2 separate regions of the Homo sapiens genome follow, and region 1 is linked to region 2. The links come from fine-mapping of genetic effects on gene expression. Tissue or cell type: whole blood. Region 2 holds a variant in brackets; the other region holds the start of a gene. All regions are shown on one strand. Distances are from middle to middle.

Region 1 (9,991 bases), 93 kb after region 2:
GGTAGACCCAGGGCAAGGTTGGAGCAGGATGTACAGGTCTTCAGAGTTTATTTAAAGTCTAATAGAAAGGCAGAAGTGGGTTTTCAGCCACAGTACTCTCCCACTTAACCCAAATAGGCCCTCTGAACCTTCACATCATGGAATCCTGGGCAAGCATCAGCCAGGACTGAAGCTGGCGTCCCTTCAAGAGAAGCCATACCATCTCTGCAGGAATGGAGGCCCGTGTCCTTCTGAAGCTTGACCGTGCCACCCTCCAGATGCCCCACTGGCACGGAGCCAGAAGACAGAGACCTCATCCTGTTTAGTTCCTGATTTGCTGTGTGACTCCAAGCAGGGCCCTTCACCTTTCTGGTCCTTTGTCTCCCCATCTGTAAAAAAGAGTGATTCTGATTCTGTGTGTTTCCATTGGTTAATAATTGTGCACCTACAAAATCTCTGTCAAGGTTAGCTTCCATCGGGCCCCAACTTCCTATTCCCACCACTGCTGACCCCAGCCTCCAGCTTGTCCCACCCATGAGCTGCTGCTCCACGACCCTCTGGCTGCTGGCAGCACCTGCCCCTCTTCCTCCACAATCAGACTGTCCCCCATTACCACAGCCTCCTTCCTGGACACCAGCAGCTCCCACTTCTGTGTATCCCAAGCTGCTGACCCCAGGTTCTCTTGTAGCACAGCTCTAGACCCTGAAGTGCTTTGAAGGAACCAAAAAGTAATAAGAGACTCAAAAGTGAAGCCATTCTTCTATAAGGCTGGTAGGGACCACCATTCATGAACCCACCCAGAAAGCCCTGAGGCTTGGGGGCTCTATCCCTAGTTCCTCTGGGCACTGTCATCTTTCAGGGCAGCCACCAGAGATAGGACAGACCCAGCAGAGTCAACTGCACAATAGGCTCACCCAGGCCACAGCCCAGGCCTATTGCATGGGAGCCTCTGGGGTGTGAAACCAATAATTCATGTTTGTTAAAACCTCCAAGTGATTCAGACATGGGGTCAAGGCTGAGACTGAGAGATGGAAAGCAATGTGTCTCCACTCAGATGTGCAGGCCATCACCTGAAGACCTCAAGCAATGTAGATTCCAGTCCAGCAGGCTTGGAGGCCAAAGCACTCATCTCTGCAAGCTCCAGGCAAGCCCCTTCTGCAGGTCCGAGGACCACACTCCAAGGAGTAAGGGCATGGGGGATGGAAGAGCAGCAAGCAGGAGCCAGAAGGCTCTAGGTGCTCACCTCGGCTCTGCCCCTGACCCTGACACTCACTCACTTGCCCCTCTGAGCCTCAATGTCCCCATTCAGAAACAGAACCAGTGGCACCTACCTGGCAGACCCTTGCCCCATTTCTCTTTCCCTTCAGCCAGGCTCTCCACCCCCCTCAGTACTGACCAGTGCTCCCTGAATGCCCTGTTCTAAGTGTGGCCCAACCCGCCAAGCCCTACAACAGCCAGACAGGGCAGGTACTTAAAGACTGAAACCCTGTGGCAGGGTGGGTCAGCTGCTTCCTCACTTAGACAAGGCAGGGGAGTCAAGGTTCAAAGCCAGGCCACCTGCCCACAGAGCTGTCTCCAGGTGGCATGTCACCATTGCCTCACACTGACACCCTCACTCCAATTCCCACCCTTGGTCTGCCAAGCAGGGCTGCATCCAAGGCTCACCTCCTTGCCCTGAGGGCTCCTGGCTGGAGTGGCCCCACTTAGCCCTGGTCCCCGATCCCCACCTTCCTTTCCTTCTCTCCCAGTGGGCACTTCCAAGCTCCATGTCAAGCCTGGGCTCTGCAACAGATTCTGGAGTACAGGTCGGCATTGATCCTGGGAAGGGCCTGAAAAACATCATGCCTCCTTCACCACCTCCCTCAGTTTAGAGATGGGACGATGGAGGCCCAAAAGAAAGCGACTTTCCCAAGGCCTCCCTCTGCCACCCTGCTCAACTGCACCTGCCTGCAGGTGAAAAGACAGCCCTGGCATAAGTGACCAAGGGGTGCAAGCCCCAGGGACCACGTGGAGTCACACGAGGACTAAGGCGGCCTGTGCACCTTCACCCTAAAGCTGCCCCTGCCTTGGACTCTGAAGGTTCGCCTAGCTGCTCTCCACATCCAGCTCCTGTCCTCACCCCTGGGTCTGGCGTCACTCCCTAACAGATTCTCTCAGCACCCTTGGGTGGGTCTCCTGAGCTCCGCCCACCATCCCAATGGGCACGAGCCAGGCTAGCCCCACCCTGTCCCTCCTGGCCAGTGCCCACACCTGCAGCCTGGTCCACCTGGACCCCTAGGTCTGAATCTGAACCCCTAGACCTGGACCACTTGGCCTGGTCCCCCCTCAGCCTACTCTGACTGTCACCTATCAGGCCACCGAGACCCAGCCCAGTTCTTCTTCCTCCTCTGCCTCCCCCTCCTTCCCCTTCTTCCTCTCTTCCTCCTTCCCCTGTCCTTCTTTACCCTCCTCCCCCTCCCCTGTTTCCTCTCCTCTCCTTCCTTCCTCCTCTTCTTGGAAGTCAGAATGAATCTGAACCACTGCCTTCTCCTCCCCAGCCCTTTCCTGGAGGTATTTGCCGCAGCCAGCCCAAGTCATGGCTGTTCCTACAGCCCACCTCCCTACACAGGGCCTGTGTCTGCCACATTTTCACATTAACTATGATGCTCTGAAACACAGCTCAGGGACAAGGTCCTGATAAGTATTCATTACCCTCAGGCAACTATTATTCTCCCTGAGCCCCTGATCTCCCTCACTGAGCCAGGCAAAGACAGCATCAATTCCCCACCACCCCCAGTGCCAGGGCATTGCCCAGCCCCTCCCCCACGGCTCTACAAATACCCACCCAGGTCGCACAGCTATCTAAAAAGAGAAGGAGGGGTCCCTGACAACATGCCCCTCCCTGAATCTCTGCATGCCCCAAATCTCTACATACTCCATAATCTTCACATGCCCCATCGCAAGGACCTGGCTCAGGCAGATTGTAAATGTGCCTTTGAGGACCACATGCCATCCTCAGGCAGGTGTTCTGGGATAACTCCTCTACCCACGGAGGTGCTATGAGGATGCCTGTGACAGCACCAGCCCTGGGCCTGCACAAGGCAGGCACCCTGAGAAACCAAGTGCCCTCCCCAGGGAGCTCATTTCTAGTGCACATGAGGCTTGAGGGGCTCCCAGCAAAACCTGACAACCCACCCAATGTTAGAACAATGGTGTAAAGACAGATTCCTGGCAACACCACAAAAGAGGGCCATTGCCAATCAAGCTACTGGCTGCATTAGTAAAGGTCGCAGGAACTGAATCAAAATAGAAATCCATTTTGGTTGGTTTCATTGGGAAACAAAGAACATGCCGGCCTGTGTTTCTTTTGTCTCAGGGACTTCCAGACGCCACTGAGAGATGATAAACAGCCAAACAGATGCATTTCCGCCAGAAAGGGCTTTTGTGGCTAGTCATTTGGAAATGAAACACAGGCGCTCTCCCCCTCCTTGACAGAAAGAGCATCGACGAGACTGGCAAGTGGCTGCCATGGGCCACGGTCAGTCGACCTTGGGAGGCTGTGGATTCTGGGCGGTTCTGCCCCTGGTCTCTGTGGTTGGGCAACTTCCTCTCTAACCTCCAGATTTCTGTTTCCTTATGAAGAATAGGTAAGAGCATGGAGGTCAGATAACCTCCAAGGAACCTCCAGTGCCAAAAATCTATGGGCCTCTTCTTGGCCAATCACCACCTTCAAGTCTTTTTTTTTTTTTTTTTTTTTTTTTTTTTTTTTTTTTTTTTGAGGCAGAGTCTCGCTTTGTCACCAGGCTGGAGTGCAATAGCATGATCTCGGCTCACTGCAATCTCCGCCTTCCAGGTTCAAGCGATTCCTCTGCCTCAGCCTCCTGAGTAGCTGAGACTACAGGTATGCACCACCACACCCGGCTAATATTTTGTATTTTTAGTAGAGACGGAGTTTCACCATGTTGGCCAGGATGGTCTCGATCTCCTGACCTCGAGATCTGCCCGCCTTGGCCTCCCAAAGTGCTGGGATTACAGGCGTGAGCCACCGCACCCGGCCGGCCACCTCCAAGTCTTTAATTCACCAGAGTTACTGCTATCCAACCATGGCCCTTGGGCCCACTTGATTCAGTAGAATCAATATGACCACAGGTAACATGGCAGCAGGACATCATTTAATGATAAAAACGATGGTACCATGTTCATACGCTTGCACACACAGGCACACACACTATGGTGCTCCATCTTTGGGTGCTGTGAGTGAGCCTCATGAGGCCCAGTGCAGTCACTGGTGGGTGCCTTCCCATACCTCCCCTTGTTTAAGCATGAACCCTTCCACCCCACAATCCCATGCCCAACACAAGGTGATAGGGACTAAACTGAATGGAATCAAACTGACGGTCTCAGCAGCCCTTTACAGATTGCTATTATTACATCTACATTGCAGCTCGGAAACTGAGGCCAGTGAGTGCTTTATAATCTTGGGATCATGATCAGGATTTTCACCCAGACCAGAAGAGTCCAGTCAAGAGCTGGGCACCACAGCAAAGTGTCCTGCTGAGTAGACAACTGCTGGACTTCGCATCCCCACAGCCCCACACAGCATCAAATGCTTTCTGGAAAAAGGTCTGGAATTCTCAAAGAAGCCCCAGAGGCCTGCACCCTCCCTGCTGGTCCTCCTGAGCTAGTCCTCAGTCAAGAGGAACCCACCCAGCTCCTTCCTTCCAGACACAGCAGCATCCAGGGCAGATGTGGGTTCCAGTCCCGGATACCTCTGACACATCGGCCTGGGACCATGAGCAAGTTTTACCTCTCCCTGAATCTCACTCTGGCCAGTCGAACACTGGGAGGGTCTGCTGAGAAGCTGGACCTGGTCCCTATTCTGGCCAGGGAGCGTGAACCCATGTCCCATTGGAGGGGGACAGTCAGGACCAACACAACAGGACAAAGAAGTGGCCCTCAGGAACTGGGTCCACGAGAGACAGGATTATTAAGGGGGGATTCTGTGCAGGCGGAAGCCTGTGGTCCTTCTCAATTTGATACTGGAGATGATCAGGAAAGCCTCAGCTTCTCCCAGAATGAATTGAGAGGACCTTCCTTCCACTATAGCGACCAAGATCTCCACCTAAGGGGCGCTCACTGGAAGTTTGCTGAAATCCCAAATCAGCATGCTCCTGATTTCAGAAGCTGCCATCCACCTTTGCACTTCAACACAAAATCCACCACATCCTAGGCTCCAGCCCTGGAACACCAAATGAAGCCACACAAGTTCTGCACACCAAGACCTCTTCAATGGAAGGAAAATGACCACTGAGTTTGGTCCACCCTTTTCCCACCTCCCGTACCAAATCCCAAATCATCAAAACAGGCCCAACTCTGCATCTTACAGCCAGGGAAACTGGGGACCACCAGGCCAGGGCCCTCCATCACCAATGTCCCCCCCAGAACTGGCCAGGCTCAGTCACCACTCAGTGGACCCCAGCCCTCAGCAAGCACTCTTCCCCAACAGCCTTTACACACATTCTCTCTCTCTCTCTCTCTCTTACTTTTTCTTGGATAATTTCTTTAGCAAGGTACTTCAAAACAAGCTTTTAGTTTAATCTATTTCCATTTTGTGAGCAATGGTTCTTCCTAGAGTCCTGATTTCTTGCCGAAGAAGGCATTAGGAGAGGATGGCTCAGAGAGTCGCCCCGCTTCCCCTCTCAGCCAGTTCCAGGACACACACAGGCGTCCACACACTGAGGGGCCCTGGGAGGACCAGCTACCCAGTCCGGAGTCCACCCGCCCACGCCCCTGTGAGTGGTGGGCAGGCACTCAATGCCAGGACAGAGAGCTCACTACCTTACAGACAGCCCACCCTGGGGGATAAGGGGTAAAGAGCCAGACCTGGTCCACCTCTTCTCGCCCACCCTGAGGCGACCCCAGAACCGGGGCGTGGGGGGACATCACAACTAGAAGGACCGGGGGCTGCCGGACCCTGCCGTCAGAAGACCCCGGAGGGGGCCCTGTGCCTCCCTTGCCCGCCAGAGTCCTTCGCCTTCAGCTTCTCCCGGGTGGAACCCTCCCGCAGAGCCTGGGAATCCCGCCAGGGTCACTGTGCGCCCCTCCCGAGCTCCGGGGCAAGGGAAGGACCGCGGCGCAGGTGCGGGAAGGCGCGGGTCCACCCGGGTCCGGTGAACCCCGAGGAGTGGGGGCGCCCCCGGTGCGGGCCGTCGCCCCCTTACCGCAGAGCAGCAGCAGCAACGGGAGAAGTTGCGGGCGCCGCAGCGCTCCAGTCTCCATGGCTGGCCGGCCGCAGCTGGGTCACGCTCGGTCCCGCTGGGGGCGCGGCTGGGGGACGCCCGGTTGGGGTTGGGGTGGGGCGGGGCCTCAGGGGGTCCGCCCTCAGGCCGCACCCCCAGACCACGCCTGCGGCCGTGCCCCGTTGCCTCCAGATGTGGGGTGCAGTCCCTGCAGGCGCGCCGGGTGGGAGGGATGGGGGCGGCTGGAGTCTCAGCGGGGTGAGAGGGGGGCGAGGGCAGGGTTTCGAGCTGGGGACAAGCTGGGGTAAGGTGGGGTGCCGGCTGATGGGCTCTGAGGGCGGGGCTGGGGTGCTGAGCTGCAAAGGAGCTTTTTGGGAGCAGATTGTAGGGGCAGACTGGGAGGTGAGCTGGGGTGAGCGTGGGGGCCGGCTGACGGTGGGCTGGGATGCAGGCTGGAGAGACTTGGGGAACTTCCGTCCAGGCTCAGGGGCAGAGGGTGGGGGTAGACCGGGGAGGGAGCTGAGGTGAGGATGAAGCGCTGGCTGATGATGGCCTAGAGGAGTCTGGGGGTAGACTGGAGGAAGGTGGACCTGGGAGTGGGCTAGGTGTGCCCTGGCCGAAAGTAGACCAGAGTCCAGAGCTGCCCCCAGGCAGGGAGGGGAACTTTGAGCAGAGATACATCTAGGAGCCAGGTCTCCAAAGGTCAGGAAAGTGCATAAAAGAGGTTGGGGGGTGTGTGTGTGTGCGTCTGTGTGTGTGCGTGTGTGTGTTGTTCATGGAGTACGTGTGTGTGATGTGCATGTGGGGTGTGTGTAGATGCATGTGTGTGCATGGAGTGTGTGATGTATGGTGTGTGTGTGGCATGTGTGTGTTTGAGTCTGAGACAAGGTGTGTTTGTGAGTGTATGCTTGGGAAACAGTGTGTATGAGAGAGACTGGAGGGTGTGGCAACTACACACACAGAGACGTATCACACACCAAGAACCAAGCCACAAGCAAACCAAGGGACAGGAGAGTATCTGGCACCACCAAAGACCTGGCCTTGAAGAGTGTCAGGGTCCCTGAGGCGAAGGAGGGCCTCAGTTTCTCCAGCCACAGGTCACTTGGCCAGATGGGTCACCTCTGTCACCCTCAGCCCCTAGCACAGGCCCTGGCTCCAGTGGACACTTAATGGTGTCTTAAGAATTGTCACTGGTCAGGACTTCCGAGAGCCAGCTAGAGGCACCTCTCTGCCCTCCAGGGCCCACCCACCACCCCTGGGGGCACATGCTGGTCTGAGGTTGGGGCACAGGCCCAGGCTCCTACATGGATGGGCCCTCCACTCCTCTGAGCCGTAGGTACTGCTACCTTCCCAGGAGCTGAGCTGAACTTCTCCTGGCTTAGAAAGACCCACTTTATTTAACAAGACCCTTATTCGGGAGAAGAACTTTCTGTGCTTTTTTACTGAAGAAATTCTGATTACAGCCAGAATTAATTCAAAGGAGTCAAAACTAATTAAAATTGATCATTTGTCCTGCCTTCTGCCTGAGGGGTGGGCAGCAGGTGTAGGGGTGGCCACAGAGCCTCTAGTGAGACTGATGGTGCCCACAGCCAGGCCTTCTGCCCACAGGCCAGGGGTCATAAAACAAGCTGACCAGGGCAGCAGGGGGCTGGCTTACACACACGCACACCCTACACCAGCCAAGACAAACCAAGAGGATGGTCCAGGCCCAGGTGTCCACCCACATCCCACACAGACTCGGCCCTACAGCTCTCTCCAGGAGAGTCTTAGTCTCCACTCGGTCCCACAGCCCCAAAGGCGGTTGCACATAGCTTGCAGGCTGGAACAGTAGGATGGGGTTGTCAGGTGGGAGGGGGGCAGCCAGTTCCCCCAAGCCTGCACCAGGGAGCAATGCTCCCTTTCCTGGACTCCCCACCCTGGCTCTGCAGTGGGGAAGCCCTGGCCATTCTACAGAGTTGGGTTCCAACACCTCTCCTCCATGGAACCAACCATGCCCCAACAAACTCCCAGGGAGTTGTGTCTACTGCCCCTAGGTCCCTCTAAGGCAGGGCCCTCACTTCTCCTCTCTGTGCCCAGTGGTGCCCATGGCCTCTGCAGGGCAGGTGGGTTTAACACAGGCTGTGAGGAGCTGAGCCATGGGAGAGAGGGACCTGCCCCTTCCACGGTGCATCCCCCCGACCCTGAGTGTGGAAAGGCTGCCGCCATAAATGAGATTGACCATGGGGTGTGCCCTGGACAGCACCTGTCTCCCTGCTTGTCCCTCGGTGGGTGCTGGCCCCGGCACCATTCCCTGTGTCTGCGATCCTGTGTGCACTGGGGTCCTCTCAGGAATCCCCTCTTAGCGTTCATAATTATTTATTTATTTTATTTATTTATTTATTTATTTATTTATATTTTTTTTAGAAGGAGTTTCATTGTTATTGCCCAGGCTGGAGTGCAATGGCATGATCTTGGCTCACTGCAACCTCTGCCTCCGGGGCTCAAGAAATTATCTTGCCTCAGCCTCCCGAGTAGCTGGGATTACAGGCTTGTGCTACCATGCCCGGCTAATTTTTGTATTTTTAGTAGAGACGGGGTTTCTCCATGTTGGTCAGGCTGGTCGCGAACTCCCGACCTCAGGTGATCCTCCTGCCTCGACCTCCCACAGTGCTGGGATTACAGGCGTGAGCCACCGCGCCCGGCCGGTTCATAATTCTTTACACCAAACTTCCCCATTCAGGTTGCGGTGTAGTCTCTCTCCTGATCAAGCCCTGATTCACCATTATCATGATATTTATTCTGTGATTCCTCTTATTCTTAAATAGTTGTAAGAGAACATTTTCTTGACACTCAAGTGGCCTCTTCTAAGAGGAAGAAATAACATCCTGGTGTTTCTACCAGATCAGGGGAACACATGGCCGCTGGGCCTTCACTCTCCCTGGAAGTAATGCTTCTGCCCGGAGTCCACGTGTCCAGGCAAGGGCCTGAGCACAGAACCTGGTGAGGTTTGGGATCTGGTTCTGCTTGCTCTGGGGCTAGACTTCAGGAGGGTGGGGGTTGAGAAGGAGCCAAGGGAAGCCATTCCCGGGCACCTGGCTCCCCCTGCTGGACAGACACTGAAATAACGGTATCATTGTCGATGAGACTACGCCTCTGTCCCTGAGGCAGCAGCAACGCCTCGGTGACCCCTCTCCAGGGACACAGAGGACCGGTCTTCAAAGAAGGGTGATGAAGGAGATTCCAGGAAGGGGTGCCTCTGACCCTCAGCTGTTTTCCACCTTCCCACGGATCAAGACACAGCCTTCCATCTCCTGTTGCGTTTGTTTGCTCATTTGTTTAATTGCAATAAAAAATACTTAACGTCAAATCAAGCATTTTAGGATGGGTGTGGTGACTTATGCCTGTAATCCCAGCACTTTGAGATGCCGAGGTGGGCTAACTGCTTGAGCTTAGGAGTTCTAGACCAGCCTGGGCAACATGGTGAAACCCCGCCTCTACAAAAAAAATACAAAAATTAGCCGTGTGTGGTGAGGTGCGCCTGTAGTCTCAGATACTGTGGAGGCTGAGATGAATTTCCTTTTTTTTTTTTTTGAGACATAGTTTTGCTCTTGTCACTCAGGAGTGCAATGGTGCCATCCCGGCTCACTGCAACCTCCACCTCCTGGATTCAAGCGATTCTCCTGCCTCAGCCTCACAAGTAGCTGGGATTACAGGCCCTCCCACCACGCCCAGCTAAATTTTGTATTTTTGGTAGAGATGGGGTTTCACCATGTTTGCCAGGCTGGTCTCGAACTCCTGACCTCAGGTGATGCGCC
Region 2 (9,991 bases):
AGCTAGCTCCAGGTTCTCAGGCCCAGGCGTGGAGGAAGAGAGCAAGAGAACAGTTTCTGTACATCAGCAGTTCTCTGTCCTGCTCATCTGCTAGTCTTCACCCTAAAGCTTGGGTCCTCAGGGGCGGCTGGGCCCTCAGGAGAGACTAGCAGTGCCATGAGGCAGGCTACTCCCAAAGCCAGCCACCACTTCTTCATGACTCCTCCTGGGACTAGTTAGCTTCCATCCACAGAGGGCTGTGAAGTGGGTATGAACAGGGCATTACTGAGACTCTGTGGCCACCTGTCCCCTCAACAAACCTCTCCCATGTTTATTTCCTATCTCAAATTATGCTTGTGGTATGTGTCAAGTTGGCTAGACCATGACACCCAGATGTTTGGTCAAATGCCGGTCTAGATGTTGCTGTGAAGGTATGTTTTTAAATGAGATCAACGTTGAAACCAGCAGACTTTGAGTAACGCAGGTGACCCTCCACAGTGTGAGTGGGCCTCATCCAATCGGCTGAACATCTTCAGAGAAAAAGACTCAGGTCCCCCGAGGAAGAGGGAAGTCTGCCTCCAGACTGACTTTGGACTCAAAACTGTAATATCAACTCTTCCCTGAGTCTTCAGCCTGTTGGCCCGCCCGGCAGATGTCAGACTTGCTGGCCTCCATAATCACATGAGCCAATTCCTCTGTCTATAGATAAATATAGATAGATGGACATCGAGATAGAGCTGGAGAAATACAGATACAGACAGATTTCTACCACCTATTGATTCTGTTTATATGGACTACTACAGATTTTAATACCAAGGATGGTTCTAGAGGAACAGAATCTTAAGCATTTTGAGAATCCTTAAGATCTTAAATCTTCAGGAGCTTTCTGAATTGCTTCTGGGGTTTCTGGAATTGGCTCTCTAAGCTGATTACCTTTAAAGGCACTGATGACTACTCCTAATAGTAGAGAGAATGCAGATAGTCCATGGTGTGATGTAACAGTAGAGTTAGGTAAAACATCACTGTTGAATACTCATAATCAAAAATTTATTAAGAGCCAAGGATCTGAGTGGTCATGCATATGGTACCATCAAACATTTTTAATCAAACTAACAAGTATAATGAGATTGGTTGACTGCTCCTGATGTCACTGGACAAAGCGGGGAAAGAAAAGGATGAGCTCGGGAAATCAAATGTTCAGCTCAAGCTCCGCATAAATGACCTGAAAGCTTCTATCCCTGCCCTGAAAGAGACCCTTATTTTCTGTAGCTGCAGAGCTGAGATTGCTGAAAACCAAAACTATAATTGAATCACACCCTACAAGTGGCTGAATTACAACACAAATTGAATTGGACAACCAAGCAGGATGTCTACTCTTAAAATGAGAAATTGATTGGGAAGAAAATGATACTGAAAATTGGTATGGGTGATACAGGAGTTATTACCGAGGCATTACTGAGACTCTGTGGCCGTCTAAGAACAAATCACTTAGGCAAATAGTGAGGGCATGGGAGTCCTCGGTAAGATTTTGTTTTTAATGAAAAGCAGCCCCAAATCATTTTCTAACAAAGAGCAGCCTGTAATGTTGAGCTGCAGACATAGACAAGCAGGCTGGGAGCTTGCACGGGTGAATGCCGGCAGGAACTAGGGACTAGACATGTTCAAGATGGCGGCTCCAACTTCCCTTCTTTGCCAGCCACCTGTACAGTAAGGAGCAGACAAGATGGCTGCTGGCCAAGGGGAGAGTTTATTTGCCTTGTAAGACTAGGGTGCGGTGACCAGCCTTCCCCACACACCATGTAAACGTCATACCTGATGGAACCAATCTGTGAGCCCTACGTGAATCAGACACCCTCTCCTCAAGCCAGACTATAAAATCCCACACATCCCCTGCCAGCCAGTCTTTCCGCTTGGAAGTCCCTTCTTTCAATAGAGAGAGCTGTTCTCCTTTCTCTTTCTTCTGTCTATTAAGCCTCCACTCCTAAACTCCTCATGAGTGTTCGTGTCCTAAATTTCCCTGGCACAAGATGACGAACCCCAGTTATATACCCCAGACAAGGTAGCCACTTCATGGGGACATGTGGGAAGACCCTGATGAAACTGGAGACATTGATCCTCTGTGTTCTGGTAAGTCTTCCTTGCCAGTAGAAGCAGCCTCTCCAGCCCTGACTGAGGGGATTAACTCTGCATTGCCTGGGGAAGCTGCAAAGGCCTCCCCTGAGGCAGCTGCCATGCAAAACAGTGCTGATTCTCCTTGGGACCCAACCCCAACACCCCTTTTTGCTTCTAGAGCTAGAACTAGACCAGAGTCCCAGCATGCCTTTAACAGTAAGGATCAAAGTGTGCCCCATGAGGAGGTGTGCTGCACTCCCAAAGAACCACTTTAGCCAGGGATAGTGGCTCATGCCTGTACCTGTAATTCCAGCACTTTGAGAGGCCAAGGTGGGCGAATCACTTGAGGTCAGGAGTTCGAGGCCAGCCTGGCCAACATGGTGAAACCCCCGTCTCTACTAAAAATACAAAAATTAGCCAGGCATGGTAGTGGGTGCCTGTAATCCCAGCTACTCTGGAGGCTGAGGCATGAGAACCACTTGAACTGGGGAGGCGGAGGTTGCAGTGAGCTGAGATCACACCACTGCACTCCAGCCTGGGTGACAGTGAGACTCAAAAAATAATAATAATAATAAAAATACTTTGGTTTTCTAATTTATACAGACAGAAGTCTGGGAAGCATGCGTAGAAATGGATATTAAAGGTGTTGGATAATAGTGAAAGAAACATAAAAAGTTGGATTGGATCAGGCTGAATTTATTGATATGGGCTCCCTAAGCAGTGATTCTCTATTTAATGTTGCAGCTCAAGGAGTTAGAAAAGGTTCTGTTTGGTTGGTTGACTGCAACACGGGCCAGAAGGTGGCCTACAGTAAGTGAGCTTGAAATGATGGACCTGCCTTGACATGCTATAGAGGGAGGGATTCAAAGACTTAGGGAAGACCGGGCGCGGTGGCTCACGCCTGTAATCCCAGGACTTTGGGAGGCTAAGGCGGGTGGATCACGAGGTCAGGAGATCGAGACCATCGTGGCTAACACGGTGAAACCCCGTCTCTATTAAAAATACAAAAAAATTACCTGGGCGTGGCGGCGTGCACCTGTAGTCCCAGCTACACTGGAAGCTGAGGCAGGAGAATGGCGTGAACTCGGGAGGCGGAGCCTGCAGTGAGCCGAGATGGTGCCACTGCACTCCAGCCTGGCTGACAGAGCAAGACTCCGTCTCAAAAAAAAAAGACTTAGGGAAATTAGAATGTTCAAGTGGATTTATCATTTAAGATCTGCTCACCCTCCTGGGAGGGTACCTACACACCCATTCTCTTACTCCAATCAGGTGGCACCACCTACCATCCACAGTCCTTGAGAATCCCAGAAAAGAAACAGAGGAACGATATTTTCCTGACCTAGTCTATGATGTGAGCCATAAGGATTTGCCCAATAGTCCATGCCTGGTCTCTGCTCAGATCAGTACTGGGGTGTGGCTGCTGTTTCTGGCTGCTCTGAACTTGGAATGGACAAGAGAAACACATGCAGGAAATGGCAAGGCAGGATGTCTGCCCTGGAAAAGATGGAGAGAGACACAGAGAGACAGAGAGAAAAAGACACAAAGAAAGACACAGAGACAGACACAGAGAGACAGAGACAGGCAAAGAAAGAGAGAGACAGACAGAGAGATTGAGAGGAAAGAGAAAGAAAAACAAGATTGAGAGAGAAGAGAAGGAGACAGGGAGAGAGAAAGAGACTAAGAAAAAGAGTGCAGATGGCAGAGTTCTCCCAGGAGATCAGAGAAGCAAAGTGCAAGGAAAGGGCAGGAGAAGGTGGTCAGGTGCATTCCAGGACCAAACTTCACCTCAGTGTCCCTCAGACCTCAAGGGATGTGGCAGAACAAAGAGCAAACAGGGTGCCAGGGCTAGACCTGCAGGGTATCTCCTGGTTACCTAGGGACCACAGCCAAGGGAGGGGAGGGAGGAGCCCAGCATGGCCCTACCTACTGTAAACAGGCAACTACCCCTTTCTGAAAGGAGGGCAGAGCCAAACACTTCTGCTCCCCTAAACAGGAGCCAAGACTGTGCATGGATCAGTGATGCAATGGGAAGGAGTATCTCCTGGTCCCTCCCCATCTCTGTTTGTCTGTATCTCTCTCTCTCTCTCACATACACACACACACACACACACACACACACAGAGAGAGAGAGAGAGAGAGAGACAGAGAGACACAGAGACAGAGAGAGACAGAGAGACAGAGACAGAGAGAGAGAGAGAGAAATGCCCATTATGGACTAAAATTCATGTTAGAATCCTAACCCCCAAGGTGATGATATTTGGAAGTGAGACCTTTGGAGCTAATTAGGTCATGAGGGCAGAGCCACCATGAATGGGCTCAGCACCTTCATAAAAAAGGCCCGAGAGCGCTCCCTTGTCCCCTCCATCATGTGAGGACATCACAAGAAGGTGACCGTCTCCCAGCTGGAAGCAGGTCCCCACCAGTCACCCCACAGTGCTGGCACCCTGACCTGGGGCTTTCAGCCTCCAGAACTGTGAGAAATAAATTTCTACCGTTTATAAGCCACGTCAGCTATTGTATTCCATCATATGAGCCCCAGCTGGCTGAGACGGTGCCCCAGCCTCTCCCAGGGAGTTTAACTTAACTGCTTTTCTCCACTTATTGCCTGGAGCACTCCCATCCCTGGGGCTGGGTTCTGGATGAGAGGCCAGGGATGGCACAGGTGCTCAGTGCCTCTCCTCCCTGCACATTGGAGGCTGCTACTGGAGGAGTCATGGAGTCAGTTACTTCTCTACCTGGGGTGAGGGGGCTTCCAGGCAGCCCCATACAGCTCCACTGTAGGGTATGCCCTGCATGTGAGCAGGGGATGCGGTCTTCTCACGTATTCTCCACAGCCCCTAGAGACGTAGAAAGCCGCGGCCATTCAACATATGTCACTGGGCAGGCGGTGCCTCTAATACTGGTAATGCTAGAGGTGATGTTTTTGGTAAACAGGCGGGGTAAGATTTGCCGAGTTCCTTTTACTTTTTTTAACCTTTCCTTATAAGCATGCCTGTGTTGGGTTAACAGTATGGGTAGCACCGGTTTGTCTAAAACCAGCCACTCTCTAACCCTGAAGCCCTGGGAAAGTCCCTTCATTTCTCAGGAACAGTTTCTCCCCTGGCAGGTGGAATAAGTCATAATAGAACCAACTCAGACCTCCTGGAGACTGGGAATTTATAGGGATATTAGCATAATAAGAAACAAATTTGATCTTGGAAATATAAGGAATGGTAAGAATTCAAAGTGACCATGTGATGAATGAATAAGCATAATGAATAAAATATGATATGATTTTCTATAACGACTGTATCATCCCTCCCCAACCCATCCCCAGCAAGTCCATGGTATGCATTTGTGCTAAAATAAAGCATGTTACTAAAATAAAATCTTCACCCTGAAGGATTTCCAATTTCTCCTGTCGTATTACTGACTTACAATGATTGACTATTTCTTTGTTATTATTATTATTTTAGGCAGAGTCTCACTCTGTCACTCAGGCTGGAGTGTAGTGGTGCCAACACAGCTCACTGTAGCCTTCACCTCCTCCTCCAAGTGATCCTCCTGCCTCAGCCTCCCAAGTATCTGGGACCACAGGTGTGTGCCATCACGCCCAGCTAATTTTTTTTTTTTAAGACAG[T/G]GTCTCACTCTGTTACCCAGGTTGGAGTGCAGTGGTGCGATCTCGGCCCACTGCAACCTCTGCCTCCCAGGTTCAAACAATCCTCCCACCTCAGCCTCCCAAGTAGCTGGGATCACAGGTGCACACCACCACATCTGGCTAATTTTTTGTATTTTTGGTAGAAACGGGGTTTCATCATGTTGCCCAGGCTGGTCTTGAACTCCTGAGCTCCAGGGATTCACCCACCTTGGCCTCCCAAACTGCTGGTATTACAGGCGTGAGCTACTGCACCTGGCCTCAGCTAATTATTTTATGTTTTGTAGAAACGGGGTCTCACCATTTTGCCCAGGCTGGTCTCGAACTCCTGGGCTCAAGCAATCCTCCCATCACGCCCAGCTGACTATCGCTTTAAAACAAGTGTTCCATTGGTTAAAACTTGGAAATTCTTATATATTTTTCGGTTTACAGTACTCAGAGAATTAAAATGGGGCATGATCATACTTTAGCTTTCCTTTTGGATTCTGATATAATAACTTAGTGATTAATAATAGATAACATTTTTGAATATTTAATATGCACAAGGAACTACTAGGTGCTTTACATGCATTATCTTATTTAATAAGACCATATCATGTATTATTACGACAATAATAGTCATCATTTGTTAAGAGCTTACCTCTAACCACAATCATCAAGCAACCCTTCAATCCTGTGGACCTGATGATCCCCAGGCTCAGAAAATTGTGTCCCAAAGCAAAAAAGTAGGAAATGGCTCAGCTGAAATGTGAATGCATATTTCTAACTTCAAAGCTTTTTCTTCCACGACTCATTGAACTATCACATTAGCTTTCCTTCTCTTCTGAACAACTTTTTGATTTGAACTTCTTTTGAACAGCATTTATTATTCAAGTATTTTTCCAAATATGTTCTTATCTTTTCCTTTCCTTAATGATTTCTTTTGAAGCAAAAAAGTTAAGACGAAGTCCAATTTATAGTTTTTGTTCCTTTACAAACTGTGCTTTTGGTGTTATATCTAAGATATCTTTGCCTAACCCAAGGTCTCAAAGATTTTCTCTTAGGTTTTCTTCAAGATTTTTATTTTATTAACCCTTAAAGTCTATGATACATTTTGAGTTATTTTGGTATACAGTAATGAAAGAATCTAAGTTTATCTTGGCTGGCAACTTCAATAATGTTTCATAATTTTCAGTATACAATTTTTGTACTTCTTTTGATAAATTTATTCTTACTTATGTTATTCTTTTTGATGCTATTGTAAGAGGTATTGTATTCTTACTTTCATTTTCAGGTTATTTGTAAATAAAAATACAATTGGTTTTTTTTTTTTTCTTTTGAGATGGAGTCTCACTCTGTCACCAGGCTGGAGTGCGGTGGTGCCATTTTGGCTCACTGCAACCTCCACCTCCTGGGTTCAGGCAAAATACAATTGATTTTTATAAACTGATCTTGTATAGTACATCCTTGTTATACTTGATCATTAGTTCTAACAGCCTGTATGTGTGTATATTTGTGTGTGTGTATATTCTTTAGGATTTTCTACATGCAAGATTATGTCTTCTGCAAACACAGTCAGTTTTACTTCTTGCTTTCAAATGTAGATACCTTTCATTTCTTTTCTTTTTTTTTTTGCCTGATTGATCTGGCTAGAACCTCCAGCAAGTTTTGAAAAGAAGTGGCAAGTGTACACATCTTCGCCTGCTATGAGTTTAGGTTTTTTTGTAGATGACTTCTATCAGGCTGAGGAAATTCCCTTCTTTTCCAAGTTTATGGAGAGTATTTTGTCATGAATGGACGTTGGATTTTGTCAAATACTTTTTCTGCATCTATTGAAGTGACCATGTGGCATTTGTCCTTTCTTCTATTAATATTAGTTGATTTTTTGAATGTTAAATCGACTTTGTAGTCCTAGGATAAATCCCTCTTGGTCATAGTGTCTAACCATTTTTAGATTTTGCTGGATTTAGTTTGCTAGTATTTCGTTGATAATTTTTGCATCTATATTCGTAAGAGATGTGGGTTTGTAGTTTCGTTTTTTTGTTGTTGTTGTTGTGGTATGTTTGACTGACTTTTGTATCAGGGCCTCATACAGTCAGTTGGGAACTGTTACTCTTTTTTCTATTTTCTAGACTAGTTTGTGAAGAATTGTTGTCAATTCTTCTTTAAGTGTTTAGTAGAACTTACCAATGAAGCCATATGGGCCTGGGCTTTTTCTGTGAGAAGTTTATAAATTACTAATTTAAGTTACTAATTAAATATTTTTACTTCTCATAGTTCTATTCAGATTTTTAATTTCTCCTTGAGTCAGTTTTAGTAATATGTGTCTGTCTAGTAATTCATCCATTTCATCTATGTTGTTGAATTTATTGGCATAAAGTTATTTTTAGTATTCCCTTTTAATCCTCTACTTTCTGAAAGATCAATAGTAATACCACTTTTTCATTATTAATTTTGATGATCTGTGTCTCCTCTTCCTCTTTTTCAATAATAAAAAGGTTAGCCAATTTTGTTGATCTTCTCAAAAAACCAACTTTTGGATTTACTGATTTTCTCCATATTTTTTCTATGTCTATGTCATTGGTTTCAGTTCTAATCTTAATTATTTAGTTTTCTCTTATTTTTAGGATTCTTGAATAAAATCCTAGGTTGTTGATTTGGGATTTTTATTCTTTTCTAATATTTCTTAAATTTTCCTTTGTTATCTTTACTAAATATTTAAGTCATTTTCTTGGCACTAGCTTTGAGGATTACATTACATATTTTAACTTAATCTTAACTTTATTGCAATAGTATAGAGAAACTTGACTTCAGTATAGTATCTTCTCTCCCCACTCCTTTGTGCTATAATTGTCATATAAATTACAACTTTATACACTAAAAGCTTATAACACCATTTTGCAATTGTTTTTTTCAGTTGTCATTTAAAATCAGTTAGGGGAAGAAAAGAGTTTAAAAATATATCTTTATACTATCTTTTGTCTTTTATCTTTTACCTGTACAATAACCTTTGCTGGTTTATTTCTTCATGTGGATCTGAGTTGCTAGTCTAGTGTCCTCTCTTTTCAATCTGAAAGACTCTCATTATATTTCTTATAAGTCATGTCCCCAACAATGAATTATCTCAGTCTTTGTTTATCTGAAAATGTCTTTATTTCTCCTTCACTTTTCAAAAATAATTTGATTGGATATAGAATTTTGAGTTGACAGTCTTTCTTTCAACACTTTCAACATTTTGAATATGTCATTTCACTGTCCTCTGACTCTCATGGTTTCTGATGAGAAGTCAAATGTTAATCTAATTGATAAATCATTTTTCTCTTGCTGTTTTCAAGATTTTCTCTCTCTCTGTCTTTTTTTTTTTTTTCTTTTTTTTTAACATGCTCTGTCGCCCAGGCTGGAGTACAGTGGTTCAGTCTTGGCTCACTGCAACACCCGCCTCCTGGGTTCAAGCAATTCTCATGCCTCAGCCTCCCAGGTAGCCGAGATTACAGGTGCACGCCACCATACCCAGCTAATTTTTGTATTTTTAGTAGAGATGGGATTTCATCATGTTGGCCAGACTGGTCTTGAACTCCTGACCTCAGGTGATCCGCTTGCCTCGGCCTCCCAAAGTACTAGGATTACAGGTGTGAGCCACTCCACCCAGCCGAGATTTTCTCTTTGACTTTCTTCAGTTTGACTATGATATGTTTACATTTAGATCTCTTTTTGTTTGTTCTACATAGAACTTCTTTTATGAACTTTTTGGGTGAGTAAATATGTTTCTCATCAAAATAGGAAAATTTTCAGCCATTATTTCTTCAAATAGTTTTTTTCTTCCTCTCTCCTTCACCTCTCCGTCTGAAACTACCATTATGTTGGTATACTTGATGGTGACCCATAGATCTCTGAGACTGTTCATTTTCCTTCATTCTTTTTTCTTTCTGTTCCTTGGACTAGATAATCTCTAGTGGTCTTTCTTCAAATGCACTAATTCTTTCTTCTGCCAACTCAAATTTGTTTTAATTTTTTTACTGAAGTTACTATATTTTACAACTCCAGAATTTCTATTTAGCTCTTTTCTATTATTTCTATTTTGTACTGATATTCATTATTTAGTGAGACGTAGTTGCCATACTTTCCTTTAACTCTTTAAACATAGTTGCCTTTAGTCCTTTGAAAATATTTATATTGGATGTCTTCTTTAGTTGGCAAAAAAAAAAGAGAAAATATTTAAAACAGCTGATGCAAAGTTGTTGTGTACAAAGTCCAACAACTGGGCCACTCAGAACACTTTTTATTGGC

What was found. PIP is the estimated chance that this variant, and not a neighbour inherited with it, causes the effect.
Region 1: RAMP3 starts here. The variant in region 2 is fine-mapped to the expression of RAMP3 in whole blood (TOPMed, PIP above 0.99).

Annotation. Positions count from the first base shown.
Region 1 is chr7:45,154,075-45,164,065 of GRCh38, reverse strand. RAMP3 (receptor activity modifying protein 3) reads right to left here and starts at 6,275. Exons shown (of 3, transcript NM_005856.3): 1 at 6,180-6,275. The coding sequence starts at 6,237.
Region 2 is chr7:45,247,081-45,257,071 of GRCh38, reverse strand. No RefSeq gene overlaps it. Among named protein-coding and RNA genes, the nearest start is that of RAMP3, 94 kb to the right of the region's middle. The variant T/G (reference allele first, on the strand shown) is at 5,711.